Linked DNA regions of Homo sapiens. The gene in region 1 interacts genetically with each later gene. Each region holds a gene or a part of one and is shown on either strand. Other genes may lie near its edges.

What was found.
Region 2: of TARDBP (region 1) and DNAJB1, changing one suppresses a phenotype caused by changing the other (phenotypic suppression), as found in Homo sapiens cells (one study listed by BioGRID).

The regions. Positions count from the first base shown.
Region 1 is NC_000001.11:11,007,855-11,015,894, forward strand, and holds the start of TARDBP (TAR DNA-binding protein 43), read left to right. Parts: upstream 1-4,799; 5' UTR 4,800-4,889; intron 4,890-5,861; 5' UTR 5,862-5,873; coding exon 5,874-6,111; intron 6,112-8,040. UniProt on the Homo sapiens protein: RNA-binding protein that is involved in various steps of RNA biogenesis and processing.
Region 2 is NC_000019.10:14,515,072-14,522,207, forward strand, and holds the start of DNAJB1 (dnaJ homolog subfamily B member 1), read right to left. Parts: upstream 3,327-7,136; 5' UTR 3,279-3,326; coding exon 3,068-3,278; intron 2,867-3,067; exon of another isoform or gene 2,520-2,866; intron 1,976-2,519; coding exon 1,395-1,975; intron 1,100-1,394; coding exon 869-1,099; 3' UTR 1-868. UniProt on the Homo sapiens protein: Interacts with HSP70 and can stimulate its ATPase activity. Stimulates the association between HSC70 and HIP. Negatively regulates heat shock-induced HSF1 transcriptional activity during the attenuation and recovery phase period of the heat shock response.

The DNA.
Region 1 (8,040 bases):
ATTTTTATTACTTTATTACTTTATTACTTGCTTTGTCGCCCAGGCTGGAGTGCAACAGCTTGGCTCACTGCAACCTCTGCCACCTGGGCTCAAGTGATCCTCCCACCACAGCCTCTCCAGTACCTGTAACCACAGGTGTACATCTCCAGGTCCGGCTAAATTTTGCATTTTTTGTAGAGATGGGGTTTCACCATGTTGCCCAGGCTGGTCTCGAACTCCTGGGCTCAAGTGATCTGTCTGCCTCGGCTTCCCAAAGTGCTGGGATTACAGGTGTGAGCTACTGTGCCTAGCCTAAAGCTACTTTTTTTTTTTTGAGATGGAGTTTCGCTCTTGTTGCCCAGGCTGGGGTACAATGTCTCAGTCTTGGTTCACTGCAACCTCCGCCTCCTGGTTTCAAGTGATTCTCCTGCTTCAGCCTCCCAAGTAGCTGAGATTAGAGGCATGCGCCACCACGCCCGGCTAATTTTGTATTTTTAGTAGAGACAGGGTTTCTCCATGTTGGTCAGGCTGAACCCGACCTCACATGATCCGCCCGCCTCGGCCTCCCAAAGTGCTGGGATTACAGGTGTGAGCCACCACTCCCGGCCCTAAAGTTACTTTTATTTAAATATCTTTATTGGCTGGGTGGTGGTATGTGCCTGTAATTCTAGCATGTGGGAATGCCAAGGTGAAAGGATCACTTGAGGCAAGGAATTCATAACCAGCCTAGGCAACATAATGAGACCCTGTCTTTACAAAAAAGTTTTTTTAATTAGCCAGATGTGGTGGTGCACACCTACATAAATAAATAAATAAATAAATAAATAAATAAATAAATAGGGCCGGGCACAGTGGCTCACGCCTGTAATCCCAGCACTTTGGGAGGCGGAGGCGGGCAGATCACGAGCTCAGGAGACTGAGACACGGTGAAACCCCGTCTCTACTAAAAATACAAAAAATTAGCCGGGCGTGGTGGCGGGCACCTGTAGTCCCAGCTACTTGGGAGGCTGAGGCAGGAGAATGGCGTGAACCCGGGAGGTGGAGCTTGCAGTGAGCCGAGATTGGGCCACTGCACTCCAGCCTGGGTGACAGAGCAAGACTCCGTCTCAAAAAATAAATAAATAAATAAATAAATCTATGTATCATTATTGCCCTAGTATTTCTTTCAGTTTTGTCTTTTTTTTTTTTTTCTTTTGAGACAGAGTTTCACTCTTGTTGCCCAGGCTGGAGTGCAATGGTGTGATCTTGGCTCACTGCAACCTCTGCCTCCCGGGTTCAAGCGATTCTCCTGTCTCAGCCTCTGGAGTAGCTGCGATTGCAGGTGCCTGCCACAATGCCCTGCTAATTTTTTGTATTTTTAGTAGAGACGGGGTTTCACAATGTTGGCCTTGAACTCCTGACCTCTGGTGATCCACCCACCTCGGCCTCCCAAAGTGCTGGGATTACAGGCGTGAGCCACCGCGCCCAGGCTTCTTTCAGTTTTCAGGAATGTTGTGGAGCTGTGTCCTGTTTGCCTCATGGAGCTGATGAGCTGGGAGAATTCAAGGGGGTTGATGGAAGGGGAGAAGGTAAGTCCCCAAGTGACCCAGTTGAAAACCAGGGCCTGGGCCAGGCACAGTGGCTCATGCCTGTAATCCCAGTACTTTGGGAGGCTGAGGCGGGAGGATTGCTTGAGGTCAGGAGTTGGAGACTAGCCTGGCCAACATGGTGAAACCTCGTCTCTACGAAAAATACAAAAATTAGCCAGGTGGGGTGGTACACGCCTGCAGTCCTAGCTACTTGGGAGGCTGAGGCAGGAAAATAGCTTGAACCCGGGAGGCAGAGGTTGCAGTGAGCTAAGATTGTGCCACTGCACTCCAGCCTGGGCGACAGAGCAAGACTCTGTCTTGAAAAAAAAAAATGTTGTGTTTCAAACAACTTTTGACAATCAGTGCTGTAAAGCTGAATCCCAGAGACAACTGAGATAGGAGCAGGAAGATCTGTGGTCCAGTCTCCCTCTGGCCTTATAATTATCTTCCTGAGTTACTTACCTTCTTTGAGACAGTGTTTGCTTGTCCTCCCAACTAGCCTGAAAACTTCTTAGGAGAAGGGCCAGCCTTTGGGGTCATGTTCCTGTGTGACCTGTCTCTAGGAACTTCTGCATACCCAGCTCTGCCCACTTGGAGCTAGTGTCCAGGACTCCACAGCACTACCCGCACTAAATACCTCGGTCTCAGTCTTGTGACAGAAAGTGGCCAGTGTGGTGGACATAGTGCAGAGGTTTAGGGTCTGACCAACCTGGGACAGCAATTTATGGGCTAGGTGACATCCTTGAGCAACTGTATGACCTCAGGCCTGTCATATGGTCTCTGAGCCTCAGGTTTTTCTTCTGTAAAATGGGAGTGATAAAACCGACTTCTCTGCTGGGTATGGTGGCTCACGCCTGTAATCCCAGCACTTTGGGAGGCTGAGGCAGATGGATCGCTTGAGCTCAGGAGTTGGAGGCCAGCTTGGGTAACATGTCAAGACCCTGTCTCTACAAAAAATATAAAAAATTGGCTGAGTGTGGTGGTGTGCACCTGTGGTCCAAGCTACTCCGGAGGCTAAGGTGAGAGGATCGTTTGACCCCTGGAGTTAGAGGTTGCAGTGAGCCGAGGTCACTGCACTGCACTCTAGCCTGGGTGACAGAGTGAGACCCCATCTTAAATAAATAAATAAAGTATTTTGTGTAAACACTTGTAACTGTATTTCATTGAGTGTGATACATGTATATACAAAGAAACATAAATAGTTGCCAGTTAAACTATGACACATCATCATCAACTGGAACTGGAACTGAAATCACATACTGACTTCAGCAATGTGAAACATTGGCCGGTCGCGGTGGCTCACGCCTGTAATCCCAGCACTTTGGGAGGCCGAGGCGGGCGGATCACGAGGTCAGGAGATTGAGACCATCCTGGCTAACACGGTGAAACCCCGTCTCTATTAAAAACACAAAAAAATTAGCCGGGCGTGGTGGCGGGCGCCTGTGGTCCCAGCTACTCAGTAGGCTGAGGCAGGAGAATAGAGTGAACCCGGGAGGCGGAGCGTGCAGTGAGCCGAGATAGCGCCACTGCAGTCCAGCCTGGGCAAAAGAGCGAGACTCCATCTCAAAAAAAAGAAAAAAGAAAAAAAAAAGAAATGTGAAACAAAGGCCGGGCGTGGTGGCACTTTGGGAGGCCGAGGTGGGCGGATCACCTGAGGTCAGGAGTTTGAGACCAGCCTGGCCAACAGGGGTTAAAAATACAAAAATTAGCCGGGCATGGTGGTGCATGCCTGTAGACCCAACTACTCAGGAGGCTGAGGCAGGAGAATTGCTTGAACCGGGGAGGCGGAGGTTGCAGTGAGCTGAGATTGTGCCACTGCACTCCACCTTAGGCAACAGAGGGAGTCTGAAAAAAAGGAAGAGAAAAGAAAGAGAGAGAGAGAGAAAGAGAGAGAGGTAGGGAGGAAGGAAGGTGGGAAGGGAGGGAAGGGGGGGAAAGGGAGGGAAGGGAGGAAAGGAAGGGAAGGAAAGGAAAGAAAGGAAAGAAAAGATAGAAAAGAAAGGTGGCTCGTGCCTGTAATCCCAGCACTTTGGGGAGCTGAGGCAGGCGGATCACTTGAGGCCATGAGTTCGAGATCAGCCTGGCCAACATGGCCAAACCCTGTCTCTACTAAAAATACAAAAATTAGCCGGGCATGGTGTCTTTGCACGCCTATAATCCCAGCTATCCCTTGAACCTAGGAGTTGGAAGTGGCAGTGAGCTGCAGATTGCGCCACTGCACTCCAGCCTGGGGGACAAGAGCGAGACTCCGTCTCAAAAAAAAAAAAAAAAAAAGTGAAACAAAAAGTGTGCCTTAAAATAGATGAAGTACTGTATTATTATTATTATTAAAGGGCTGGAGCCAGAACAAGTTAGCATTTTGTGCCTCGAGATTCAAATCCCAGGTCTACCATTTATTCCTTGGGTGACATTTTTTTGGGGGGAGGGGCTGGAGGACAGGGTCTCACTCTGTCGCCTAGACTGGAGTGAAGTGGCGCGATCTCGGCTCACCGCAACCTCCGCCTACCGCGTTCAAGCAATTCTCCTGCTTCAGGCTCCCGAGTAGATGGGACTACAGGCGCGCGCCACTACCGCCCGGCTAATCCTTGCGTCACTTTAAGCAAGACACTTGATCTCTCTGTGCCTCAGTTTCCTCACCCGCAGAATGAATATCAATAGCTCCTGCTACACAAAACTGTTTGGGCTATTAAATATGTGAATACTCAGAAAGTACCTGGCACAAAGTAGCCTTATCATTGCTATTATTTAGAACAAAGTTATTGTTTCCAGGTTTGGAGGTGGGCTGGCGGAGGGAGGAGAAGACGCACTAGGTTGCCTTTCAGAAAAGGGGTCCAGGCCTTATCCTGCCTCCCAGGTGGACTCGGCCCGGGATCCCGAGCCCCGCCCCCTCCAGGCCCCGCCCCGCCCCGCCCTCGCTGGCCGAGACTCTGTGCTACTCTCGCGCGCTTTGAAAGTGCGCGAGCTCCGACCGAGACCTGGGCCGGCGGTTGGTCGGCCGAAACCATCTGCTACGTTACGTGGGGGGAGGTCAGCTCCTATACAGCCACACTTTTTTCAATCTTCAGCTTTTCAGGCCTAGGTCCTGGTTTTATTTTAGCTTTCAGAGCTTCTCTGTAGGCTTGAATTTCCAGGAGGCAGCCCGAGTCCCTGGGGAGAGGGTCATCGTGGCTCTCGTCGGTGCCTTCCACCTCTGGACAGGCAACCGGTGGGAGAGGACGCCGGTGGGCGGGGGGAGGAGGCGGCCCTAGCGCCATTTTGTGGGAGCGAAGCGGTGGCTGGGCTGCGCTTGGGTCCGTCGCTGCTTCGGTGTCCCTGTCGGGCTTCCCAGCAGCGGCCTAGCGGGTGAGTCGCGGAGCCTTCTCACTGAGGACGCCGTAGGTGCCTCGGCTTCTGCATTGGGGCGGCCCGAGGCAGACGCAGCGGCTTCGGACCCTGCCCCGGGAAGTCAGCCGTGAGACCGGGCCTAGTCCTGCCCGAGCGGGCTCGCGCGGGAGCGTCGTTAGGTCCTGGCACGGGGAGGCCGGTGGCGCCGAAACGGGGGGCCGGGCCCGCGGTGCCGCGTAGCCTGAGGCGGAGGTTGGCCCCGGACCCGGACAGTGCCGGAGCCTTCGGTACTTTGTACTTCGAGGGACGCTGCCAGCTTGGGCCTGGTGCTCCTGCGCCCCACCCCGGGCCGCGCCGAGAAACTCCTCCCTCGGCTGGCACGCGCGGGCTTCTGGGAGGCGACGGCCGGCACCGCCAGGACCTGTCGCCGCGGGCCTTGGGGCTCGGGCTCGCAGAGCCCCCGGAAGCCCCAAAATGAGGAACAGAGGGAAACTTTTCTCCTGTTCTTTACACCTGGTTCACTGCCCATATTCAGTCTTCAGGTTCAGCTGATGGATCGCTTGCTTAGGAAAATCGACTGGGACCTATCACGCCCATGCCTCAGCCAGTTAGGCTCCTCCTCTGCCTTCAGGATTACTTAACGACTAACCCGATTGTCATAAAATAGCTACTGTTTATTGTTCCCTTGCATACCCTAGCTTGTAACCAGCAAGCCACGTTGGACTCACAGTTACAGTTTCAGTACCTGACGCATCATAAGCCTTCAGGGAAAGTTTTTTGAATGAATGAACTGGCGAGGCATCACATTTTGATAGGAAATCACTACCCTTACCTTCACCTCGTCATTTTTCAGGGATAACCAATGCATATACGAATCCAGACAAGCATTTTTCTGGAAGTCAGAACTCTGACATGGTTTGGGTATTATCATTATAAGGAAACAGTTATTCTGACATGAATGTTGTTCATTCATATCTCTTTTCTCTTTAGGAAAAGTAAAAGATGTCTGAATATATTCGGGTAACCGAAGATGAGAACGATGAGCCCATTGAAATACCATCGGAAGACGATGGGACGGTGCTGCTCTCCACGGTTACAGCCCAGTTTCCAGGGGCGTGTGGGCTTCGCTACAGGAATCCAGTGTCTCAGTGTATGAGAGGTGTCCGGCTGGTAGAAGGAATTCTGCATGCCCCAGATGCTGGCTGGGGAAATCTGGTGTATGTTGTCAACTATCCAAAAGGTTTGTTACCATTTGGTTTTTGTAATCATGCTGAAGTGTGTTCAGGTGTGTGTCTCATCCATGGATCTTAGCCTCTTTTGGTGGCAGAATGTCTCCTGAAACTTAAGTATTTCCTTGAACTTCAGTGTTAGACAAGTTTGGAAGACCACGAGTCTAAATTTATGGAAACTGGGGATTGTAGATCATTTTAAAAGAGAAAACAATGTATTTAAAAAATATCTGAATAAACTTTGCCAAGTTGATGATAAATTTCAGGAATCACTAAGAATGTTTTGTACATAAATCATTGTTGTAAATAGATTCTTCTGAAGTGCTTCAGTGTTTGGATTTGATCATTGTCCTTTTGGTGTTACATCATTCATTCAGCAAATCTGAGTTCATTTTTTCCCTTAAATGAGCAAACAGTTGGAGTAGCCAAATCTTGAATTAGTGCAGTTCCAATTACAATTTCGAGGTTCTGGTCTTATCCTTCTCTCTGCCTCTTATCAATGATGTTCTAAATCTAAGAAAAGGAAGCATGAAGTTTAAGAAGTGTGCCAAGGAAATACCTAATTTCAGCATTTTGAAGTAGTGTGCTGTTAGTAGTCGATCTGTCTGTGTGTTCCTTTTATTATAACTTGGTATTGCAACAAAGTCCATCAAATTTGGTCAGTATGCAAGACACCCTTTTACATGTCTAGGAAAACTTTAGGGCTAGGCACGGTGACTCATGCCTGTAATCCCAGCACTTTGGGAGGCCGAGGCAGGTGGATCACCTGAGATCAGGAGTTTGAGATGAGCCTGGCCAACATGATGAAACCCCATCTCTATCAAAAACACAAAATCTCTGGATGTGGTGGTGGGTGCCTGTAATACTAGCTACTCAGGAGGCAGACGCAGGAGAATCGCTTGAACCGGGAGGCAGAGGTTGCAGTGAGCAGAGATTGTGCCATTGCACTCCAGCCTGGGCAACAAGAGCGAAACTCCGTCTCAAAACAAAAAAAAACGAAAACAAAAATTGGCGTGGTGGCGGGGGCCTGTAGTCCCAGCTAGTCTGGAGGCTGAGGCAGGAGAATCGCTTGAACCTGGGAGGCGGAGATTACTTTAAGCTGAGGTCGCGCCGCTACACTCCAACCTGTGACAGAGCAAGACTTCGTCTCAAAAAAAAAAAAAATTGATAATGTAAACTCGGGGTTTTTAGTATGCTGTTTCTTCAGCCAGTGGGTATAGATTAATATTTACTCAAATTTAAAATGTCAGGCTCGGTGCAATGGCTCACACCTGTAATCCCAGCACTTTGGGAGGCTGAGGCAAGCAGATCACCTGAGGTCCGAAGTTCAAGACCACCCTAGCCAACATGGTGAAACCCTGTCTCTACTAAAAATTCAAAAATTAGCCAGGCGTGGTGGTTCGCGCCTGTAGTCTCAGTTATTTGGGAGGCTGAGGCAGGAGAATTGCTTGAACCGGGAGGTGGAGATTGCAGTAAGCTGAGATCGTGCCACTGCTCTCTGGCCTGGCAGCAGAGCGAGACACCGTCTCAAAAAAAATTTTTTAAATGTCATTTAATTTATCTCCCCAGGCTGGACATGGTGGCTCACATCTGTAATCCCAGCTACTCGGGAGGCTGAGGCAGGAGAATCACTTGAACCCGGGAGGCAGAGGTTGCAGAGAGGGGAGATTGCGCCACTGCACTCCAGCCTAGGTGACAGAATGAGACTCCGTCTCAAAAAAAAAAAATTATCTCCCCTTCTCTTCTAAATAACCTAAGGTTGAGGTTATTTGGGGGGTTTTTTTGTTGTTGTTTGTTTGTTTGTTTTTTGAGACAGTCTCACTCTGTCGCCCAGGCTGGAGTGCAGTGGCACGATCTTGGCTCACTGCAACCTCCGCCTCCCAGGTTCAAGCAATTCTCTGCCTCAGCCTCATGAGTAGCTGGGATTACAGGTGCCTGCC
Region 2 (7,136 bases), on another chromosome or scaffold:
CCTTTTATCAAAAGGGATTGTATCTAGGGCTGTGCAAAATTCAAAAGGATCAGATCCCTTTGAAAGAGTCCATAGTCCATGAAACAAAAAATTACCTGGGCCACTGGTAAGCCCCACGTGTGCCAAGATTGCCTTACAGAAATGTAAAGAGTGTGACCCACAAAGTGAGGACATTCAGCTTCACTGGAGCCAGAGGTCAGGAAGGCCCCTTGCTGAGGCCAGGCTCCCAGACCATCAAGGGAGAGGTGGCTGCACTTGCTGGAGTCACTCACTGGAGGCTGGCTCCCTTGGTCCTGCTGGAACGAGAGGTATTGCTTGTGGACGCCAACCAGGCAGTTCTGCAGGAATAGTTTAGGTTCTCAATTTGAGATGGCCAAAGAGAAGACAGAATTCTCCAGGAGAAGAGCAAGACATGGGAGACAAATACAGAATAAAGCACAAACTGATCACACAACAGAAAAGGAGGAGTGTACAGGGTCTGGGAATCAAGACTGCAGGTTGACATTATCTACCAGCCAGAAGCAAAAAGACACAGAGGGATCAAGTCCATCTGCTGGTCTGCCTCTCACCCCTGGCCAGGGACTGGAGGTGGATGTGGGCCCATCCCGGGAGGGCTGCCAGACCCAGTGGGGCAGACTGGAATGCCTTTTCCTGCTGTTCCCACCACCTGATGCCCTATAGCTCGAAAAACCACTGAAGTCTAGTGTGCGACTTTGAAAGATTGTAATATATGCTCTGGAAAACATTCAGCAGTACGAAAGCCCTCCCTGGGCCCTCCCACCCTCTCATGGTCCACAACTGGTAGAAAGGTCCAGAAATCCTTGAGCTCTGGAAAGGTCCCTGGTCAGTCCTTGGGGAGCTCAGATAGCTATATTGGAAGAACCTGCTCAAGTACGGTTCTTGATGTCTGGGGAATCCTTTCGGGGAAGATCACTTCAAACTCAATAATGAGGTCCCCACGTTTCTCGGGTGTTTTGGGGAGGGGGAGGCCTTCTCCAGGAACTTTTCGCCGCATGCCAGGCCTGATAACATCTTTGAATACGACGGGTATCGTCCTGCCGTCCAGAGTGGGGACGTTCACTGTGCAGCCACACAGAGCCTTGAAAAGCAAAAGGACAGCATTAGATGGAAGCTGGCTCAAGAGGCTCAGCTCTTGCCCAGAGGCCGTCTGCCATAGATAAGACCCATCAGGCCTCTGCAGCTAAGACCTGGCCCCCAAATCTACACGTCCCCACCACGAAAGCTCCACAACAGCGCCCTGGTCAGTCCTGTTCACTGTTGTGCCCCAAGCCTGGCACGCACCACACACCCCAACACATTGGTTCAGCAAATACTAAACTGCTTCAAAAAGCAGCCATCGCCCTCTACAGACACCGCCCCACCTGGCACCTTACCTCCCGGAGGCTGATCCTGGCAGGATAAATGACATCAGAGCCATCTCTCTTAAAGATATTGTGGGGCTTGTCCTTTAAAACAAAGACGATATCAGCTGGAATGTTGTTGGAGGTCTGGTCTCCTTCCTTGGGGAAAGTGATTTTGGTTCCTTCTTTCCACCCCTTCTTCACTTCGATGGTCAATATTTTGTCTTCGTTTCGAATGCTCTTTCCGTCGGGGTTTAGCCGCTTGTGGGAGATTTTCATCTTCTTGGTACAGCCGCTGTAGATCTCTTCAAGGGAGACTCGAAGGTCGTGGGTGACTGGGGGATCTTGCTTCTTTCGGGCGGGCTCTTGGGCAGAGCGGGAGCGGCCAAAGTTCACGTTGGTGAAGCCACCCATGCCCATAGGGAAGCCAGAGAATGGGTCATCAATGTCCATGCCTTCCTCCCCGTTCCGCTGCCCAAAAAAGGTGTCAAAGGGATTTCTGCCACCGAAGAACTCAGCAAACATGGCATGAGGGTCTCCATGGAATGTGTAGCTGAAAGAGGTACCATTGGCACCACCGCCGCTACCGCCACTGGGGCCACTCCCCTTTAGGCCTGAAAAGCAGATTTAGAAGCAGTCAGATGGCTGAACAGCAGACTCTCTCTCGAGCTTCCCTTACAGGGGGAAACAGCTTGGAAGCCATGGGGGAGGAACTTTTTTGTCTGTCAGGGGAGAGCAAGGAAGAACCCCAAGTTTCTACCTCTCACTGCCAACAGCAGAGACGCCCCCCTACCAACAGTATTTCCGCGTAGCCTGACAGTGGAAAAGGACTCATGCGGTTAGGTGTTCACCTCCAGGTGCCACCTAGGCCCTGCCACTCCTGGACTGACCCATCCTCCTGGCAACATCACCAAGAGATGGCTAAAGACACATGGTCCAGGGTCGGCTTTCGGTAAGTGTTTACTCTCAACGTTTTAGGGCTAATGGTGCGTAGGAAGAGAAGAAAAAAAAAAACAAAAATAAATAGGGAGTTTTTAAATCCTCACACATTAGCATTCACTGCCACCATCCTTGCACAAAAAGTCAGCTCCAGATCAAGCCCAGAAGCCAGCCTGAATCATCAACGGGCACAGGAACAAAAAGCCCTGCTCTCCTTACCCTCCGAGGCGGCCCCGCTCTCCGGACCTGGGCGGCCGCTGCCTCCTGCGTGCCCTGCCGGGGCCAGGTCATCACTTCCCGGGAATTATCCCAACCCAGCCCCCAAGCCCACGAACGGGGTCGGCTCCTGCATTCACAACCCCTCGCCCCGCAGCTGAGCCGGAGGCGCCGCCCCGCGGACCCCGGCGGCCGAGCCCAGGTGAGCCCGGGTCCGCAGCGGGCTCCGCCGCGCCGTCCCCGTCGTCACCCCCGGCTCCCCCACCCCCATGCACCGCACCCCGGGGCTGCTCGGGGCCGCGGGAGGAGGCGCCCGGGGAGGGGCAGCCCCAGACATGCTAGAAGCTTCTGGCCGAGCGGCTGGGCCAAGGCTCCTCCTCCCACCGCGCGGCCGCCAATCCGAGGGCGGAGGCCCGCGAGGCCGGAGGGCGGGGCAGCTCGGCCCCACGGCCCGGGGCGTCCTTCCCGGGGGGCCGCCGAGAGGGGCCAGCGTGCCTCAGTTTCCCTGTCTGTCAAAAGGCGGGGCCGCGCCCCTGGCCGCGAGCACACACCTTCCTCCCCGTAGCGGTCGAAGATCTCGCGCTTGCGCGGGTCGCTGAGCACGTCGTAGGCCTCAGCGATCTCCTTGAACTTCTCCTCGGCGCCGGGCTCCTTGTTCTTGTCCGGGTGGTAGCGCAGCGCCTGGCGGCGGTAGGCCCGCTTGATCTCCTCGTCCGACGCGCCGCGGGCCAGGCCCAACGTCTGGTAGTAGTCTTTACCCATGACCCCCTCCTGCGGCCCGCCGACCCGCTGTCGCCGTCCCCCGGCTCCGCCGCCGACCAGTCCCGGACTCTATATACCCGTCCGGCGGAAGCTTCCAGAGCCCGCCAGCCCCCTCCAGAACCTTCCGCCCCGCCCGCCCCCGCGGCGCCGGCCAATCGCCGCCGCCCTTTCAGCGACACGCGACATCCGGGGCGGGGCCTCGCCGTCAACGGCCGCCCGCGCGGGGCCACGCCCCCTCCCGCTCCGCCCTCGGCAACACCTCCCCGCGGCGCGCGCGCACAGGTCGGAGGAGGCCCCGCCCACCTTTCGGGACGAGCCAATCGCGACCTTCTTTCCCTCTCTACGCGGCCCCAGCTACCCTGCGTCCCGCCCTCCGCCTGGGTCAGTAGGTCGGGACCCACAGCGAACTTGCTGTTCCAGGAAGGGGTGGGGCCTGGGACTACCCAGTCCTTTCCCCGGGAGGCGATGAACCTGCTCGCCCTTGTCTCGTGGGGCCTGCGGTGGGCTCCCGCCCGGTGACGCCGGACGAACTACCTAACCTGTGTCTGCCTAACCCAGGGGCCCCCTTCTATCTACAACATGGCAATAAGAGAACCTATCAGGCCGGGCGCGGAGCCTCATGCCTGTAATCCCATCACTTCCTGAGGCCAAGACAGGAGGATCTCTTGAGCCTAGGAGTTGGAGACCAGCCTAGGCAACATAAGGAGACTCCGTTTCTATTTAAGATTAACAAACAGGCCGGGCGCGGTGGCTCACGCCTGTAATCCCAGCATTTTGGGAGGCCGAGGCGGGCGGATCACTTGAGGTCAGGAGTTCGAGACCAGCCTGGCCAACATGGTGAAACCCCATCTCTGCTAAAAATATAAAAATTACCCGGGCGTTGGTGGCACGAACCTGTAATCCCAGCTACTCAGGAGATTGAGGCCTGAGAATAGCTTGAATCGGGGAGGCGGAGGTTGCAGTGAGCCGAGATCCGGCCGTTGCACTCCAGCCTCGGCAACAGAGCGAGACTCCGTCTCATAAATAAATAAAATAAGTAAAATAAAGTAAAATGAACAAAAAACCCACCAGCGCTATTCTCCCAACCGTGGGGAGAAGGATTTTGGGACGGAAGACTGCCTCTGTTCTCACCTCCTAAAGCAAGGTGAGGATCTGGACGGAAGCGCATCTCCCAAGGTCCTCCCAGTCCCGCCTTCTTCCCTTTACTGCCCTCTCAAGATCACTTGCCGCTAAATTTGAAATTTATCTTGTCTCTTGGCTTTCAATGTGTCTTCCCTCCCAGTCTGACATCGCCACCTGGGCAGGGGCCAGGTCCTGTCTGCACTGGGTCCCCAGTGCCTGGAACGCAGTGAGAACCTCATAAATATTCCCCGTTCTTACACACGTGCTTCTTTTTCTTCCCCAACTACCTTTATAATTTGGGGGGACATAGGTGTGTCACACACCTTTCAAGGCCTCTGTTTCCTCAATTGTAGGCAACACGATCGCGTTTGGCTCTGAAAGTCTGGGGTGCCTCTGTCAAGGACAGAGCTGATGGGAAAAGGAGGCTCAGAAAGGGGTTCCACCTGGGAAGGGCCCAGGGAAGTGGGGGAGGTTCCTGGAAGAACTGCCTGGGAGGTCAGAGCCATGTAACACTGGCTCTGGAACCAGACAGCTGGGCTTCATTCCCAGCTCCAGCATTTCCCGGCTGGGTAACCTTGGGTTAGTTACTAGGCCTTTGCTGGCCTTAGCTTCCTCATCTGCACAATGAGGAATGAGGATAGCAGTTGTGCCCACATCATGAGGGCTTTGAAGTTTATATGAGTCAACATTTGCAAAGTGCTCAGAGCAGGCATGGCACAAAGGAAGCATTGTCAAAGGGGTGACTAACCATTTTCTTAGTGGTGGGCTCTTCAGCCATCACCTCATTCCTGGCAGCTAAAAGATTCCAGTGACAGCTGCCCCTGGGCAGACAGGGACTCCTGAAGAAGAAGACCATCCTCCTGCCTCCTGAGGCGGGAGGATCTCTTGAGCCCAGGAATTTGAGGCTGCAGGCAGCTATGATTGTGCCACTGCACTCCAGCCTGGGTGACAGTGAGACCCTCAGCCTCCCCATAAAAAAGTTACATAAATAACTATCAGGAGCATCATGGCGGATAGTTACATAAATAACTATCAGGAGCATCCAGCAGGCAGATCTGGTTCTCTTGGCCCACTCAATGATCTCTGAGGTAACTGCATCAGCAAGAACTCTGGACTAGAACTGGACAACCCGGGAGGATGGGGCTGAAATTCCCTAGACATCGAGAACCATACTTGAGCAGGGGTCCTGAAGCAATTATGGGGAGAGAGAACTTGATATTTTTTAAAAAGTTACTAGGCTGGGCACAGTGGCTCACGCCTGTCATCCCAGCATTCTGGGAAGGTGAGGTGGGAGGATCTTTTGAGGCCAGGAGTTCCAGCCTGGGCAACATAGTGAGACCCCATCTATACAAAAAATTAAAAATAAAAAAAATTAGCCGGGTGCAATGATGTGAGCCTGTAGTCCCAGCTACTCAGTGGACCAAGGTAGGAGGATAGCTTGAGCCCAGGAATTTGAGGCTGCAGTCAGCTATGATTGTGCCACTGCTCTCCAGCCTGGATGACAGTGAGATCCTGAACCTCCCCATAAAAAAATTATATAAATAACTATCAGGAGCATTATGGGGAAAAACTCAGAGCTTGTGACTTTATAAACTAGTATTTTATAATATAAATTTAATTTAGAATTACAAGTGCAGCAGCCTCCAAAGGCTTTAACATGGCTCTGGGTGGGCCTTTCTGGTTGTTCTAAAGTTTCTTGCCATAGGCCAGGCACGGTGACTCAACGCCTATAATCCCAGCACTTTGGGAGGCTGAGGCAGGTGGATCACCTGAGGTCAGGAGTTCGAGACCAGTCTGGCCAACGTGGTGAAACCCCGTCTCTACTAAAAATACAAAAATTAGTCGGGTGCGGTGGCAGGTGCCTGTAATCCCAGCTACGCTGGAGGCTGAGGCATGAGACTCGCTTCAACCCGAGAGGCAGAGGTTGCAGTGAGCCAAGATCGTGCCACTGTGCTCCAGACTGGGTGACAGAGTGAGAGTTTCAAAATAATAATAATAATAATAATAATAATAATAATAAAAGTTTCTTGACACACTGGAGGGGAACATTTTGCTAAAAACACTGCGGAAGGGATGTCTTTGTGCTTGGGGTCAGTGTTAGAGCTGGGAACTCTCCCCTCCTTGAGTAAGCCTGGGTCATGTTCAGGAAGTTTTGTTTGTTTGTTTTGAGATGGAGTTTCACTCTTGTAGCCCAGGCTGGAGTGCAGTGGCACGATCTCAGCTCACTGCAACCTCCGCCTCCTGGGTTCAAGTGATTCTCCTGCCTTAGCCTCCCAAGTAGCTAGGACTACAGGTGCTTGCGACCATGCCTGGCTAATTTTTGTAGTTTTAGTAGAGATGGGGTTTCACCATGTTGGCCAGGCTGGTCTTGAACTCCTGACCTCAGGTGATCAACACGCCTTGATCTCCCAAGGTGCTGGGATTACAGGCGTGAGCCACCACGCCCAGCCAGTTCGGGAAGTTTTAATTTTTTTTTTTTTAATCAGTTCTAGGAGCCAGGAAATTAAACAAACAAACAAACCCAGTAACTCTCTCCTAATGGACATGGTACTGTGACCTGAACACTCACTGAGAACTTCAGAATATTACTGAAAAAATGGCCTCTGCGTCAACTTCAGCAGATATTGGGCTCTTAACTTGGAAAAGCTGTTATAGTTGTTTGTTGTGTCAGCGTGGCTAAGCTCTAGAACCTAGTTATTCAACTAAACACTAATCTAGGTGTTGCTGTGAAGTTAT